Regions from separate parts of the Homo sapiens genome. Here region 2 is linked to region 1. The links come from fine-mapping of genetic effects on gene expression. Tissue or cell type: esophagus muscle. Region 1 holds a variant in brackets; the other region holds the start of a gene. All regions are shown on one strand. Distances are between the middles of the regions.

What was found. PIP is the estimated chance that this variant, and not a neighbour inherited with it, causes the effect.
Region 2: it holds the start of ELMO3, and the variant in region 1 is fine-mapped to the expression of ELMO3 in esophagus muscle (GTEx, PIP above 0.99).

The regions. Positions count from the first base shown.
Region 1 is chr16:67,018,724-67,026,822 of GRCh38, reverse strand. It overlaps the pseudogene RN7SL543P. Among named protein-coding and RNA genes, the nearest start is that of CBFB, 6.4 kb to the left of the region's middle. The variant A/C (reference allele first, on the strand shown) is at 4,333.
Region 2 is chr16:67,194,854-67,202,952 of GRCh38, reverse strand. It overlaps ELMO3 (engulfment and cell motility 3), which reads right to left and starts at 3,822. Exons shown (of 20, transcript NM_024712.5): 1 at 3,549-3,822; 2 at 3,360-3,400; 3 at 3,197-3,269; 4 at 2,952-3,002; 5 at 2,592-2,761; 6 at 2,403-2,502; 7 at 2,145-2,296; 8 at 1,985-2,063; 9 at 1,518-1,568; 10 at 1,311-1,433; 11 at 1,080-1,211; 12 at 875-976; 13 at 669-777; 14 at 420-556; 2 more. The coding sequence starts at 3,626. E2F4 (E2F transcription factor 4) reads right to left here. Exons shown (of 10, transcript NM_001950.4): 6 at 7,973-8,099; 7 at 6,947-7,171; 8 at 5,307-5,354; 9 at 5,042-5,086; 10 at 4,035-4,945. The coding sequence ends at 4,830. MIR328 (microRNA 328) reads left to right here and starts at 558; the gene lies at 558-632. RefSeq lists a silencer at 4,427-4,486.

The DNA.
Region 1 (8,099 bases):
AGAAACATCTGCCCCCACCGTCCCAAAACCTGACTGAATTATCTGAAGTCCGGTCATCTGGAATCTTCCTTTCGTAAGGATTCAAGCCAACCAAGGGCCTCCTCTTGAGTATCTCCCTAACTTCCTAGGTGGGTGGCTGCTCCTGCAGGCTCCTAAAGCTGATCTTGGGTGGGTAAGTAGATAATACACAATGAAGCTGAGGAGAGCGCAGGAACCCTCACTTGCCTAGTGCAACTGTGAAGCTCTGTTCAGGGTGCCTTCATGCACCTTATCACAGTTAATTCACACAACCACTTTCTTTTTTTTTTTTGAGACGGAGTCTCACTCTGTTGCCCAGGCTGGAGTGCAATGGTGCAATCTCGGCTCACTGCAACCTCTGCCTCCCGGGTTTAACCGATTCTCCTGCCTCAGCTTCCTGAGTAGCTGGGATTACAGGCGCCTGCCACCACGCCCAGCTAATTTTTGTATTTTTAGTAGAGAAGGGCAGGCTAGTCTCGAACTCCCAACCTCAGGCAATCTGCCCGCCTTGGCCTCCCAAAGTGCTGGGATTACAGGCGTGAGCCACCGCGCCCGGCCCACACAACCATCTTCTAAGTCAGGTCTTCTGTCTCCTGAGAGATGAGGAAACAGACTTTGAAAAAGTAAATAAGGCCAGGAGCGATGGTTCACGTCTGTAATCCTAGCACTTTGGGAGGCTGAGGCGGGTGGATTGCCTGAGCTCAGGAGCTCGAGACCAGCCTGGGCAACACAGTGAAACCCGGTCTCCACGGAAATACAAAAAATTAGCTGTGCGTGGCAGCGTGTGCCTGTAATCCCAGCCACTCTGGAGGCTGAGACAGGAGAATCACTTGAACCCGGGAGGCAGAGGTTTCAGTGAGCCGAGATTGCACCACTGCACTCCAGCCTGGGTGACAGAGCAAGACTCTGCCTCAAAAAAAAAAAAAAAAAAGTAAAAGTAAAAAAGGACAGTGACGAGACCCTGATCCATTTGAAATAACAAAATGGGGGCTGGGCATGGTGGTGCACACCTGTAATCTCAGTAGTTTGGGAAGTGGAAGTGGGAGGATCACTTGAGGCCAGGAGTTTGAGGCCATCCTAGGCAACAGAGTGAGACCCTCCCCCGACTCTAAAGAAACTAGCTAAGCATTGGGATACATCATCTTCATTCCTTCCTCACCACAACCCTGTAAGTTTAGTATTATTGATCCTATTCTACAGATGGGCCAACGGAGATTCACAGGGGTTAAGTGACCCCAGGGTGGTGATTTTAATCATTCTACTCTGAGACCTAGTGGAGATACCAAAAGTCCTGCCTGCTGCCCTCACTGAACTGCAAACTCATAGAAGGCTATGTCTGGGGTTATTCCTCTGGGAGCACCCCACCATGTTCTAGAAGGGTCCCCACAGGTTGAAGAAAGGGGTTCTATTTTGGGCCTTGTGGCAGGATGTGGGTCTGCCCTTGAGGACTGTGCATTCCTATCTCTGAGCCTGTTTGTCCCTTCTTGGCTTGGAAGGTCAAAGTCTAGATGTCCTGCCTCTGCAGGCCCAGCAGAAAGGATGGTTTTATCCAGGTCTGGTGTCAGCAGCCACCCACCTTTGCCTCTCCTCACAGAGGAAGTCTCTGAGCCTCTGATGCATTTTTTCTAAGGAAATAGTTTCCCTTCAGTTACTGAGAAAATATTGTACCATCTTGAAGCTGAAATAGGATCTGGAGCCACAAATGAGACTTGAGAGGAGTGGGAGACAAGGAAAATTAGTGGCTGGCACATTGCCTAAAACCCTGGCTCCACTCAGCTTCTAGTTTTTAGAAGGCAATGGGCCTTAATTCAGGATGAGGGTGTCATCTGCCCAAGTGTGGCAGTTTCCTGGGCCCTAAAGAATTTTTTTCTTTTTGAGATATAATTTATATACCGTAAAATCCACCCTTGGGCCCAGAGAATCTCCCCTCCCTCCCAGGGGCATCTCCCCCTTCTGAGCCCTCTAGCCACCCTCCCCCAGCTCAGCCATCCCATAGGGAAAGGAAAGCAGAGAGGAGCAAGTTTCCCCAGAATAGCATTTCTTTAGTGTTGGGATCAATAAACCCGTTTGCTTAAAAGGAACCAGATGATTTCATCCTTGTAATTATAAGTTTGACGTTTGCAAATCTTGCCCGGGCTCCAAATGAGCCTCTTTGTCATGGGGGTTGGGGGTGGAGGAGTTTGTCTGGGTGCCTGGGGATGGCAGGACTGAGCCTACTGTGGTGGGAAGAGGGCCAAGCTGGGGTCAGGAAGCCTGGCTGATGATCTTAGAGGGCTGCCTTGGACTGCTCCCCTTCCCCTCCCCTGCTCTCCTAGTTTCTGACAAGTGATGGGAAACAGACTAGACTAAGGGGCTAGGGAATAAAAATAATGGTAATAACAATAATAATGGTAGTAATAATAATAATATAATGTGATGAGAGCTGGGATGAGCTCTAACCACACCACCCTTTTGCTTAAGACCCCTCCCCCAAGATTGAAGAAACTTGGGGCAGAAAGACAAAGGCCCTCAGCCTAGCATTTATGACCCCCTGACAATCCCTACTTTCCAACACTATCTCCCATCGTTTCTCCCCATGGCACCCTGCAATCCAGCCATACTGGCCTGTTTCCATTCCCTACGTGCCCATACCATGACTTCCTCCTGTTTCTCTGTTGGGAAAACTCATCTTTCTTCTTTCTTTCTCTTTTGGGGCAGGGTCTTCCTGTTTCACCCAGGCTGGAGTGCAGTGGTGCAATCATGGCTTACTGCAGCCTTGACCTCCTGGGGTCAAGCAATCCTCCCACCTCAGCCTCCTGAGTAGCAAGTAGCAAGTAGCTGGGACTACAGGTGCCACCATGCTTGGGTAATTAATAAAAAAAAATTTTTTTTTAGAGATGGGGTCTCACTATGTTGTCCAGGCTGTACTTCTTCTTTAAATATGTTCACCGGCCTCTGATTGTCCTCCATGGAATGACTGCCCCACAGCATCCATTTATTCATTTGGCTCCATGCTATGGCCAAGGAGATGGTCAGCCCACCTGGGACATAGCAGTCCCCTGGATTCTAGGAGGATTTAGTTCTACACTAATTTGTTTACTTTACTGTGAAGCCTTCATATGAGGGTCTCTCCCCTCACCCTTAAAACTTTTTAAAGTTATTTAAAACTTGTACTTTTTTTGTAGAACATTTAGGACATACAGGCCGGGTGCAGTGGCTCACGCCTGTAATCCCAGCACTTTGGGAGCCCGAGGTGGGCGGATCATGAGGTCAGGAGATGGAGACCATCCTGGCTAACACAGTGAAACCCTGCCTCTACTAAAAATGCAAAAAATTAGCCGGGCATAGTGGCAGGCGCCTGTAGTCCCAGCTACTCAGGAGGCTGAGGCAGGAGAATGGCGTGAACCCGGGAGGCGGAGCTTGCAGTGAGCCAAGATCGCGCCACTGCACTCCAGCCTGGGCAAGCAACAGAGTGAGACTCTGCCTCAAAAAAAAAAAAAAAAAAAAAGTTCTGGATAGTATTTTTAGGATCAATTTCCAAAAGTAGAACCACTAGGTCAAAAGATATGGACATTTTAAGATTCCTGATGTATGTTGCCAAATTTCTCTTTGACATCACCTCTTCTCTTTTCTTGAGTCTTAAGAATCTGTTCCTCCTCCTCCTTCCATTTCTCTTATCAGTGTCTGAGACACAGGAAATGCCAACCAAGAATAAACCAAGAGCTGCAGATAGAGATCAATGGATCAATACAGGAGGTTGAATAATTCAACACTCACTTCTGGCTCATTATTGACTCTGGAATCCAAATGCCTCTTTTACCTTCTCTCCTTTTGTGTCCCAGCTGATAACGCCTTGATAACCTGCCATGTTCTTGGATTCTTTCCCAAACTTTCCAAGCTTGGAACCATCAAAACAGGCAGGCTTTCTCATCATGCTGTAATATTACCTTGTAAATAAGCAGAAATAATTACTAGCCCACGGACACCTCACCAGCCTGCCTCCCCTCCAGGAACACAAAAAGGGCAATTTAGAAAGCAGACAATCGTTCTTTTCCTTGAGATGACACTACTGAGTAAATAGGCAAGGAATTCAGCTTTGGTCTGCTCCAGGCCTGGCTAACTTCCCTCTGTCTAGCTTGTCTTTCTCCCCTTTCTTGGCCAGACCAATTCACACTCTTCATTAAGTGTAGTTTAGAGAGGCCAGGCTCAGTGGCTCATGCCTGTAAGCCCAGCACTTTGGGAGGCCAAGACAGGTGAATGGCTTGAGCCCAGGAGCTCGAGGCCAGTTTGGGCAGCATGATGAAACCCCATCTCTACAAAAAGATACAAAAAATT[A/C]GCTGGGTATGGTGGTGCAAGCCTGTAGTCCCAGCTACCCAGGAGGCTGAGGTGGAAGGATCATCTGAGGTGGGGAGGTCGAGGCTGCAGTGAGCTGAGATTGTGCCACTGCAGCTCTTCAGCCTAGGCAACAGAGTCAGACCCTGTCTAAAAATAATAATAATAATAATAATTCCACACGCGGTGGCACATGCCTGTAATCCTAGCACTTTGGGAGGCCGAGGCGGGCAGATTACCTGAGGTTGGGAGTTCGAGACCAGCCTGACCAACATGGAGACACCCTGTCTCTACTAAAAACACAAAATTAGCCGGGTGTGGTGGCGCATGCCTCTAATCCCAGCTACTCGGGAGGCTGAGGCAGGAGAATCACTTGAACCCGGGAGGCGGAGGTTGCAGTGAGCTGAGATCGCGCCATTGCACTCCAGCCTTGGCAACAAGAGTGAAGCGCCTTTAAAAAAAAAAAAAAAAAAAAGAGTAGTTCGAGCCGGGGCAGTGGCTCACACCTGTAATCTCAGTACTTTGGGAGGACAAGGCGGGCAGATCACCCGAGGTCGGGAGTTTGAGACCAGCCTGGCGAACATGGTGAAACCCTGTCTCTACTAAAAATACAAAAATTAGCTGGGGGTGGTGGCACATGCCTGTAATCCCAGCTACTTGGGAGGCTAAGGCAGGAGAATCACTTGAACCTGGGAGGTGGAGGTTGCAGTGAGCTGAGATCGTGCCACTGCATTCCAGCCTGGGCAATGGAGTGAGACACTGTCTCAGAAAAAAAAAAAAAAAAAAAATGTAATTCAGAGGCCTCTGACAAGGCTTTCTAAACTATGCTGGGCAGAATGATTGCCCCTCAGCGTGCCCTCACCAATGCCTATGAGACAAGACTGGACTCAACTACCTCAAAGGCATCCCACAGGCTTGATAGCTTCCCTAGTCCCGGCTTATGCTAACTTCATCTTGCTCCCTCCTGCCCAGTGGGAGCTCCCAGCATGCTTTGCAGTTTAGGTAGTGTTGGTGACGGAGATGGACACAAAGATGAACAACCCAGGTTTCCCTTCAGTGAATTTCTTTCTCTCTTTCTTTCTTTCTTCCTCTTTCTCTCTCTCTCTCTTCTTTCTTTCTTTTCTTTTTCTTCTTTTTTTTTTTTTTTGACAGGGTCTTCCTGAGTCAAGTGCAGTGGCATGATCCTAGCTGATTGCAGTTTCCAACTCCTGGGCTCAGGCGATCCTCATCTCAGCCTCCTGAGTAGTTGGGACTACAAGTGCACACCACCACGTCTGGCTAATTGTTACTTTTTCTTTTTTCAATATAGAGTCACATTCTGTTAGCCAGGCTGGGGTGCAGTGGTGGCATCATTGCTCGCTGCAGCCTCAAACTCCTGGGCTCAAGTGATCCTCCTGCCTCAGTCTCACAATAGCTGAGACCACAGGCACACACCACTCCACCTGGCTAATCCATGCTTGCTTGCTTGCTTCCTTCCTTCCTTCCTTCCTTCCTTTCTTCCAGAGACGGGGTCTTGTTATGTTGCTCAGGCTGGTCTCGAACTTCTGGGCACAAGTAATCTTACCACCTTGGCCTCCGAAAGTGCTGGGGTTACAGGCACAAGCCACTGCATAAAGCAATTTTCCAAACACTCTCTCGCTGGCCTCTCCTTAATTTCTTCAAGATAAAGAGGGAAGGCCGGGCATGGTGACTCACATCTGTAATCCCAACACTTTGGGAGGCCGAGGTGGGGGGATCACGAGGTCAGGAGATTGAGACCATCCTGGCTAACACGGTGAAACCCTGTCTCTACTAAAAATACAAAAAAATAGCTGGGCGTGGCACATGCCTGTAGTCCCAGCTACTCTGGAGGCTGAGGCGGTAGAATCGCTTGACCCCAGGAGGCAGAGGTTGCAGTGAGCCAAGATCGTGCCACTGCACTCCAGCCTGGGTGACACAGCGAGACACCATCTCAAAAAAAAAAAAAAAAAAAAATGCCGGGCGCGGTGGCTCACGCCTGTAATCCCAGCACTTTGGGAGGCCAAGGCGGGTGGATCACGAGGTCAGGAGATGGAGACCATCCTGGCTAACACAGTGAAACCCCGTCTCTACTAACAATACAAAAATTAGCCAGGCGTAGTGGCGGGTGCCTGTAGTCACAGCTACTCGGGAGGCTGAGGCAGGAGAATGGCGTGAACCCGGGAGGCGGAGCTTGCAGTGAGCCGAGATTGTGCCACTGCACTCCAGCCTGGGCGACAGAGCAAGACTCCATCTCAAAAAATAAAAAATAAAAAATTAAATAAATAAATAAAGGATAAAGAGGGAAATAATTACTGTCTTATTTTGTAGCTCTTGAAATTGAGACTCAGAACAGGTGACTGGACTCATTCAAGGGCATATAGCCAGGTAGACTCAGAGAGAGAGAGATCCCAGAGAAGTCCTGCAGTTGAAGAAATGCAGTCACTTAACTCTTTAATTTTTTTTTTCTTTAGAGGTGGGGGTGTCTTGCTATATTGCTGCTCAGGTTGGTCTTGAACTCCTGGCCTCAAGTGATCCGCCTTCCTCGGCCTCCCAAAGTGCTGGGATTACAGGTGTGAGCCACAGCGCCCAGCCTATTTTATTTTATTTTATTCGTTCAAGGCTGTTTCTCAGTGTGAACTATTTCATTTCACTATTCCTTTTTTTTTTTTTTTTTTTGGAGATGAGGTCTTGCTATATTGCCCAGGCTGGAGTGCAACAGCTACTCACAGGCACGATCCCACTACTGATTAGCACAGGAGTTTTGACCTGCTCCATTTTCGACCTGGGCTGGTTCACCCCTCCTTAGGCTACCTGGTGGTCCCTCGTTCCTAGGAGATCACCATATCGATGCCACACTTAGTGCAGACACCTAATCAACATAGTGAATTACAGCCCAGAACTCCTGGGCTCAAGCAATCCTCCCGTCTCAGCCTCCCGAGTAGCTGGGACTGCAGGCACATGCCACTGTACCTGGCTAGTTTTCCGTTTTACCTTCCTTCACATGCTGACTCACCCTCAAGTGGTACCCATTCTCTTTCCTGATGTTTCTACAAAAATCTTGAGATTGAGCTTAATAGTCCAAGTCTGGGTTATCTGGTCATCCCTGAGCTGTGGTGTGGACACGGTGAATTGCCGAGGACAGGGTGGTGTCACGGGAAAAGGAATGGCTGTACCGTGCAGGCAAAAACATCAGAAGGTACCTGGGTTAGTGTCTAGCACAAAGTTGTAAGTGTTCAAAGAACGGTGGCTATGACACTGTTTATGGTCCCTTCTAGCTCTGAAATGCTATGAGTTGTACAACGCTTTGGTTGATACAAAGCCATCTGTAAACGTTGCCAGTAAGGGAAGCACAGGATAACAATTTGAGTTCACATAAGGTCTAGCCAAAATGCCATACAATGAGCTGAAAGGGTGCCTGAAACCAGGTGCAGTGGCTCACACCTGTAAGCCCAGCACTTTCGGAGGCCAAGGCAGGTGGGTCATCTGAGGTCAGGAGTTCTAGACCAACCTGGCCAACATGGCGAGACCCCATCTCTACTAAAAATACAAAAATCAGCTGGGTGTGGTGGCTTATGCCTGTAATCCCAGCTACTTGGGAGGCTGAGGCACGAGAATAGCTTAAACCTGGGAGGTGGAGGCTGCAGTGAGCCGAGATCGTTCCACCGCACTCCAGCCTGGGCGACAGAGCAAGATTCCGTCTCAAAAAAAAAAAAAAAAAAAAGTAAATGCCTGTGGCCTGCCTCCTTTTCTTTTTTCTTTATTCTTTTTTT
Region 2 (8,099 bases), 180 kb before region 1:
GAGCAAGCGCTGCTGGCGGATCAGGCCCATGAGCTCTGGCTTCAGCTTCTCCCGCAGCTCCCTGATAGAGGGGTGTCACTGAGCACATCTGACCTGGGGAGTAGCCCAGGGGGCACCAAGGAAGGTAGGGCTAGGACTGAGGATCCATCCCCCCAGACTCACAGTATAGGGGGAGCCAGTGTGCCCTCCTGGTGCAGCCGTTCAGTCTGCCGCAGCCGCAGCACCTCCCCATAAGTGAGCGCATTCACCTTGGTTCGGAAGAGCTCCAGGGAAGTGGGCTTCAGGGCCAGAGTGCGGGCCAGCTGCTCCCGCACCACCTGCATGACCTGGGGCCGCCCAAGCTCAGCTCAGGGCCTAAGCTCTGTACCCAGATCAGCCCCCTGCCCTGGCCCAGGCCTCCCAGCTCCCACCCCACCCACCTTGTCGAAGTCCTCCTGTGTAGCCCGCATCTCCTTCCAGGTCTTATTCAACAGCTGGATGCCCACACAGAAGAGCTCGTGGAAGCTCTGGTCTTGGCCGAAGAACATGGGTGAGAAGTCCTGGGCTGTCTCAGAGCCTGGAGTGGGGGGGCAGGAGGGGCTCAGGGAGAAAGTGCATACAGCCCCTGGCCCTCTCTGCCCTTCCGTCCCCTGCTCTTGGCCATGCTGTGCCCAGTCCAGGCCACTCACAGGGCTCCCCAACACGGAGCAGCTCACACAGCAGCACCGTCAGCTGGATGCTGCCCCGGGCAAAGGGGCACTCGTGCTTGTCCTCGCGGCTGCTGTTCTCCAACACAAACTGGGGGCGCAGAGAATGGGGCAAGGAGTCACAGCTAAGCCCATGGGGACCCTGCCTGGGGGATGCTGCCACCCCCCCACCCTACCCTGTCACCGACCCGGCTGTACGCGCTGGGCGCGTTTCTGGAGAAGTACAACATGTTGTCCAGGGCCAGCAGACCGGGGGGCACGCGCTCCAGGTCCTGTGCTGGGTTGCTGTTCTGGGGGAAGTGGGCACAGGCAGTTCAAGAAGGGCCACGGCCGCCTGGAACAACAGCCCTGGGCTGAGGCAGGGGTGGGGAGTTGGGTAGGGGTGATACTCACAGAAAAGCCCAGTTTGCGGAACTCTCGGGCACAGAGGGAACGGCGACGGTCAGCACTTAGCCCGGCACCCGAGGACTCCCCCTCCACCTCGAAGGCAGCCTGGCGTAGGACCTGCAGCTGCTCCCGCTGCTCCTGGGGTCAGTGTTGGGTGGCGGGGGAGGGGATCAAGATTATAGATTCAAGGCCAAGCTCTAAGCCACCCCCTGCCTTGTCCTCACCAAAGACACACACCTGGCTGTAGGGGTCCAGGGGCGTCCGCATGCGCGGCTCCAGCAGCCCCAGCATGAGAGCCTGCAGTACGTACAGGTGATGAGCCATCTCGTCGCCCATTGGTGCTGCACTGTGGATGATGTTCTGCAGGACAGCCAGTCCCTGGTGTAAGCGAGGGCTCACGGGGAGGGAGGGGCAGAGAGGTCCCCCTGGCCCACCACTTCCTACCTTATAGATGAACTGGCGAAGGTTCCTCTGCCAAAGATAGTCAAGCATGTGCTGAGGGGGTAGAAAGAAAGGGGGCTTAGGCTGGGCGCGGTGGCTCACGCCTGTAATCCCAGCACTTTGGGAGGCCAAGGCGGGCGGATCACGAGGTCAGGAGATGGAGGCCAACCTGGCTAACACAGTGAAACCCCGTCTCTACTTAAAAAAAAAAAAAAAAAAAAAAAAATCAGCTGGGCGTGGTGGCGGGAGCCTGTAGTCCCAGCTACTCGGGAGGCTGAGGCAGGAGAATGGTGTGAACCCGGGAGGCAGAGCTTGCAGTGAGCCAAGATCGCACCACTGCACTCCAGCCTGGGCGACAGAGCAAGACTCCATCTCAAAAAAAAAAAAAAGGGGGGCTTAGAGGATTTTGCTTCAGGGTGGGGCAGCGCCCACCGGGTGCTGCCCCCATCTAGCCACCGATCGACACTCACCTTGCGTTCCACAGGGCTGGCCCCCTGCAGCAAGGCTGTCAGCAGGGCCATGGCCTTGGTTTGCAGCTGCTGGTTCATCCTATGGCAAGAAGAGGGCTCAGTGGAACATTCAGGCTCCAGCCCTGCTCCCTGCATCTGGACCCCAGCCCCAGAGGCTTACACCTGTAGGTGCACCAGCAGCCTATCCAGGGGCACCTCGCTCTTGACCAGCTGGCCCAGGGCTGGGCTGCTCAAGGTCACACTCTCCAGCAGCCCAAGGGCCAGGGGAGGCACGGAGGCATCCATGAGGTTCATGTTCACGTAGCACACCACCTGTAAGGGGCGGGGGTGTCACCACCTCACCCCCATGGAAGACCGGGTCTACCACTGCCCCACTGCTCCACTGCCCCCACCCGCTGCCCTAGGAAAGCCCACCCACCTTCCTCACAAAGGGGATGCTCAGAGTCTCCCAGGACACCACGCCGTGCTCCATGAGCTCTGAGAAGGCCCTCAGGCTGAGGGCCAGCACCTCTCCTAGGCTGGAGGGGGGACATCTGGGGCTGAGCAGGACCACCCCAGGACCAGAAAGACCCACCATCTCCCCCAGCCCACACATCCCTGTGCTCACTCGTCCCCATCTTCAATGATGGTGCCTAGTATCTGGAGCCCATTACGGCTGATGACCTCCCTGGCAAAGATCATGTCCGAGGCCAGCGGAACAAGGCGCCTCAGGGCTTCCCGGCGCCCTTCAGGACTGTTACTCTGCAGCCCACCCAAGAGCTGCTCAGCCTCAAGGTCCTGGCAGGAACGGAGCAGGAGCAGAGGTGAAGAGGCTGGGCATGGTAAGGGTGGGACCTGGAAGTGTGCGGCCCCGGGCGTCAACTAGGTGGCGCAAGGCAGGGCTGGGGCGGGGGCCTCCGGGGCGGGGGGCCTCTGGACCTGGAGCAAAGGGGCAGGGATGGGGAAGGCGGGACGGGAGGGGCATTACTGGGGCCGTGCTGAGGCACAGGATGCTGCCATTCTTGATCTCCGCGCGGTTCTGGAGAAGACAGCAGAAAAGGCAGCGAGGTCAGGGAGGGCTCCGAGGACTGATCAACTGGGGTGTCGGTGAGGGCGGCTGGGGGTGAATAACAGATCGCGCTCCGGTAGTGGGATGAAGAGCCAGAGTTATCGGGGCCAGGTGGGTTAGAGGGGTCGGAAGGCCGAGCTTGGGGCTGGGGAGAGGGGACTCACATTCTCGGTGATGTATCTCCGGTGCCCATCCGCAAACTGCAGGGCGTAACGCTCAGAGTGCGTCAGGCTCCACCTGAGGGGCACGAGGCTCAGCGAGGCCGGCAGGGGGCGCCGCCCCTCCTGCCCTCCCGCCCTCCGCAGGCCCTGGCCCGGCAGCACTCACGCGTCGCACACCTCCTTCAGCACAGCGGCCAGGGGCTTCGCCTGCAAGTGGAGTGGTCATTCTCGCGGCCTGGGCAGGGAGGGATGGGGAGGAGCCTGGGGGGAGGGGTGGGGCGGGCTGCCCCGAGGGCCAGGGGGCTACCGGGAGGTGGGGCAGTGGGGCAGATGGAGGCGGGACCAGCCGGGTGACCTGGTCCAGCTGGATGAGCTGCGGGATGGCGTCACGCATCTTGATGGCAATCTTCACCACGTTCCGCGGAGGCGCCATGGTCCAGCTGGGACGTGGGCGCCTGCACTTTCCGGAGACCGTGCACCTGCGGCCAAGGGTGCACCTGGCCTGGGGCCCCTGGGGACGAGGAGGTCCTCCCTTTCCGAGACCTGACCTCGGTGTCCCGCACTCGCGGCCCAGACTGCTGCTCCTGGCCATGCAACGCGGCCTTCCCAAGGGAGCCGAGGTTAGTTCCGGGTTGGAGTCTGGGGGTAGGAAGGTAGGACGGCTCCGCCTGCCCCGCCCCGCCGAGGCGGCCCCGCCCCACACCAAGGTGCGGCAGGTGGGGGCGGGGAGGGCAGGCTGCCGGAGGCCGCCCCACCCCTAGTTCCAGCAAGGTGACCCACCCAATCACACTGCCAGTCCAGCACAGTCCCAAGGAGGGTCCCCAAAGAACCACATCAGAGCTAGCCTTAGGCATGGTTTTTATTCACTTGAACACTGTACAAATATTACAATTTCCTTTTGCTGCAAAAAGTATAAAAATAATCTTTATATAGGAATCCATTCGTTACTGTAAATCTTTCTAAATCTCTGCAAATGGCTCTAAATGAGGGTAAATGAAAAAGCCGAAATGAAGAGAGGGTTATGGGGCAGCAGGAGGTGGGGCCAATCATCAGGGCTGGACCACCCAGACTCCTCCCCAGAGACCTCTGTTCCTTCTTGGTAGCCGCCCCCACCACCTGCAGGTTCTAGGGCTAAAGGCCCAGCAGAAGTGGGCACGTGAGAGGGCCAGGAGGAGCTGGAGGGTCAGGGGGTGGGGGATAGCGAAGGAAGCTAGAAGTGGTGCTGGCATGTGCCCAGTTCCACCCCACCCTTCCCTCCTAGGGGAAGGAGCTGGCAGAAGCAAGACACTGAGGCTGGCAGGAACAAGACACTGCCCCCTATGGGGGGTAATGGCAGCTCCTCGGTTCTGTGCCACTGGGTGGCAGCCGAGCCTGGGCTGGCGAAGGCCGCAGAAAGGGAGAAGCAAACACTTTGGCTCCACGGTGATGGGGGCTGAGTCCTGTTCCCCTGCTCTGCGAGCACAGAAGTGCCAGCACAGGAGCGGGAGCTGTGGCCAGAACTGTGCGGTGAGGGGAGGCCGGAGAAGCCAGGCGTCTGTGGCTCTCAAGCTCTGTAGGGGTCGGGTGGGAGAGGTCCCCAGGCAACCCCCAGGTCAGACAGTCTGGGTCCCAGCCACACAGGGCATGTCCCTGTCAGTCAGAGGTTGAGAACAGGCACATCAAAGAGGTCACAGACACCTTCACTCTCGTCCAGGTTGTAGATATAATCGTGGTCTCCCGGGGGTGGAGAAAGACGAAGCAGAGGGGCAAACACTGCAGAGAGCACTAGTCTCAGGCCCTGGGCCAGGGCTCCCCTAGCAGCAGCCCAACCCCTGCCCACACCCACTCCCACCTTCCAGGGCCACCCACCTTCTGAGGACATCAACTCCTCCAGCAGCTCCGAGCTCATGCACTCTGGGAATGGAGGGAGCTCAGTTACTAACATTCCAGCTCCCACCTCTCCACCCACCAAAGCCCAGGAAAGGGAACCCCACCTGCCCATCAGGAACTTCACCCTTTGCCCCAGTTACCATAAGCGCCACAACAAGGTCCTCAAAAGGGCAAGAAAACAGCCATAGGACCCAATGAGCTGTGTCCCTTACCCCTAGCCTCAGGGAGGAATGCAGCAGCCTACCTCGTGTGGGATCAAAGATTTCTGACAGCTCTTTGGGGAGTTCCAAAACTGAAAAACAAGAAAGCCATGCTCAGGGCACAGAGGTCCAGCCTGGCCCCACTACAGCCCCCTGGCTTCCTCGGATCCTATACCACCCACCCTGAGGCTCCACACAGCTAAGGAGATGTAGGTCCTGCCTAGGCCAAGCTGGCACTGTCTGTTGGCCTCACTTGCTAAACCTGAATTCCTCAGTGCTGAGCCCAGGGTACCAAAGGCCCCCTGCAAGCGATTGGTACAGCTTTTCTAACTCGGAAAGGCCACAGAAGCCTCTTTCTGGGCTCAGCATGCACCCCCTGTCTGACAGAAGGTACCCCATCTGTCCCACCCTTGCTGAGCACCTGCTCTGTGCAAGACTGAGACCAGACCCTGGGTCAGGTCACCAGGCAGAGGTGGTGGCGCTACAGGGTGATGACTCCACTACAAACCTCTGGCCAGGAGGACACAGGGGAAGCAGAAGAAAATGCAACCAGAGAGGACTATGAGGGATTTCACATGCCAGGCTCAGGAGTTCAGATCTTATCTGGTGGCCCTCAAGGAGCCATTAAAGGTACTTTTGCAAACAGAGAAATGCCACATTTTTCTGTCAGGCCTGCATTTCAGAAAGATTAGTCTGTCAGTCAGGGTAAAGAGAAAGATGCTGAAGAATCCAGGACAGAGGTGGCCAGGGGTCATCCTGAGTGCTGAGGATACCAGAGGATAGGAGGGGACATCTGGGACAGACCTCAGTTAGCTGGCATGGGGTGGGCAGCAGAAGGAGGAGGGATAAGGAACTAGAACTAGAGTGAGAGCCAAGGGTCAGGCCTGGATAACTAGGGCTGACGGCTGGGTGCGCAGAGGTGGAAAGCAAGCTTCGGGAGGAAACTAAGTTCAGTTGAGGACATGCAGGAATAAAGTGTCCATTGGATGTACACAGGACGGCAGGTGGACACCGAAGTGTGCAGATTGGGAAAAGATCTAGGCCAGGCGGAGGCTGGGGATTCGTTCACCCAGAGCTGCAGCCCTCTCCAGGAGTGGAATGGGACAGAGCCCTCAAAAACAGCAATGTTTAAGGACACGCCAGGGAAGAGTTCAAGAAGCCAGTGAGATAGGAGAGCCAAAAGCTGGCATCATGATGCCAAAGGAGGAAAGAATATTGACACAGACCAAGAGAGCACCAGCAAAACACGCTGGAGGCTGCTGGGCTCGGCAGGCCTTCGGCAGCTTCTCAAGAGTAACACCGCTGTAACACTGGGGCTGGGGGGGTGACTGCTGCAACCTGAAAGGTGACTAGGAGACTAATGAATGGAGATTACTTTTTCAAGGAGTCCAGACAGAAAGGAGACAGAGAAGATGAGAGAGAGTGATACAGAGAAGTGTCAATTAGTGAGGCGGTGCTCCAAGGGGTGGCAGGAAAGGGCTTGAGAGACGGCAGGGAGTTCTGTGTTAGCCTAGGATGGGGTGCTAGAGGGGGCACCAGCACTGACCCAGAGGTGCTGGCAGAGAGCTCTCGTGTCCAGCAGGGTTGACAGGAGATCTGGGTTCCATCCCCAATTCTGTTTTCTGACCTAGGACTGGACTGAGGCTAGACTCTCTCTCTCTGCCCCCAGGGGGCAGGTACTCACCACCTGTGGGGTCTGCCTTGATGGGCTCAAAGGAGGTAGAAGGGTTGGGTCCGGACGAACTGCTGCTGTTACTGTTGCTGCTGCTGCTGCTGCTGCTGCTGCTGCTGCTGCTGCTGTCCAGCAGGGCAGAAGACTGCAGTGGCCGGGTGTCCAGTGTTGTTGGGCCCAGTGGGAGTGAACTGAGCTCACCACTGTCCTTGCTATCAGTCCCAGGGCCGCCACTCACTACAATGATAGCCCCCAAACCCAGTCATACAAGGTCAGGAAGAGGTCGTTGAAACTGGCTGTGCTGGAACCCAGACACAGGAGGACCACAAGCCTGGTTCCCAGACCCAAGGAGAATTAGGCATTGCCAGTCACCCCCAGAGGAAGTAACCTGAAATTAGTCACCACAGGAGACAGGGACACAAGACCTACAGAAGAAGACTCGTGGTCAACATGTCTGCTGTGGCCATACTTCAAGACGGGCTACCAGGGCAATTGAGACACCAGTGGATGTGGATCTGGGGGAGAAAACTGCCACCAGCAATGGCTCTTCCCACAGTCAGAGGTTCCCTGTTAAAAAGGGCCCATTCAGGCAGGCATGGTGGTTCAAGCCTGTAATCCCAGCACTACAGGAGGCCGAGGCAGGCAGATCATTTGAGGTCAGGAGTTCGAAACCAGCCTGGCCAACATGGTGAAACCCCATCTCTATTAGAAGTACGAGAATTAGCTGCGCATGGTGGGCGCCTGTAATCCCAGCTACTCAGGAGGCTAAGGCAGGAAAATTTCTTGAGCTTGGGAGGCAGAGGTTGCAGTGAGCCAAGATCGCGCCATTGCACACTCCAGCCTGGGGGACACAGTGAGACTCCGTCTCAAAAACAAAAACAAAAAAGGCTCATTCATTACCATAGCAAGGGAAGGCTAGGTGGTCAGGAAAAGGACAATCCCCAACCTGAAGAGTCTCTTCCAACTCTGAGCATGGTGTTCCACAACACAGAGATACTACCTCTTGGGCCTCTGTCACAAGCTCCCATGGTGCCTCACCTGTGATCTCAGCTGCTGGGCCAGCCATTCCCTGGACTTCTGCACTGCCAGGGACAGCAGTGGGAGTGAGCTGAGGACTATTTGGACGTGAGGCTTCCTGGGACTGGGCTAGGGCAGGCTTGGGCAG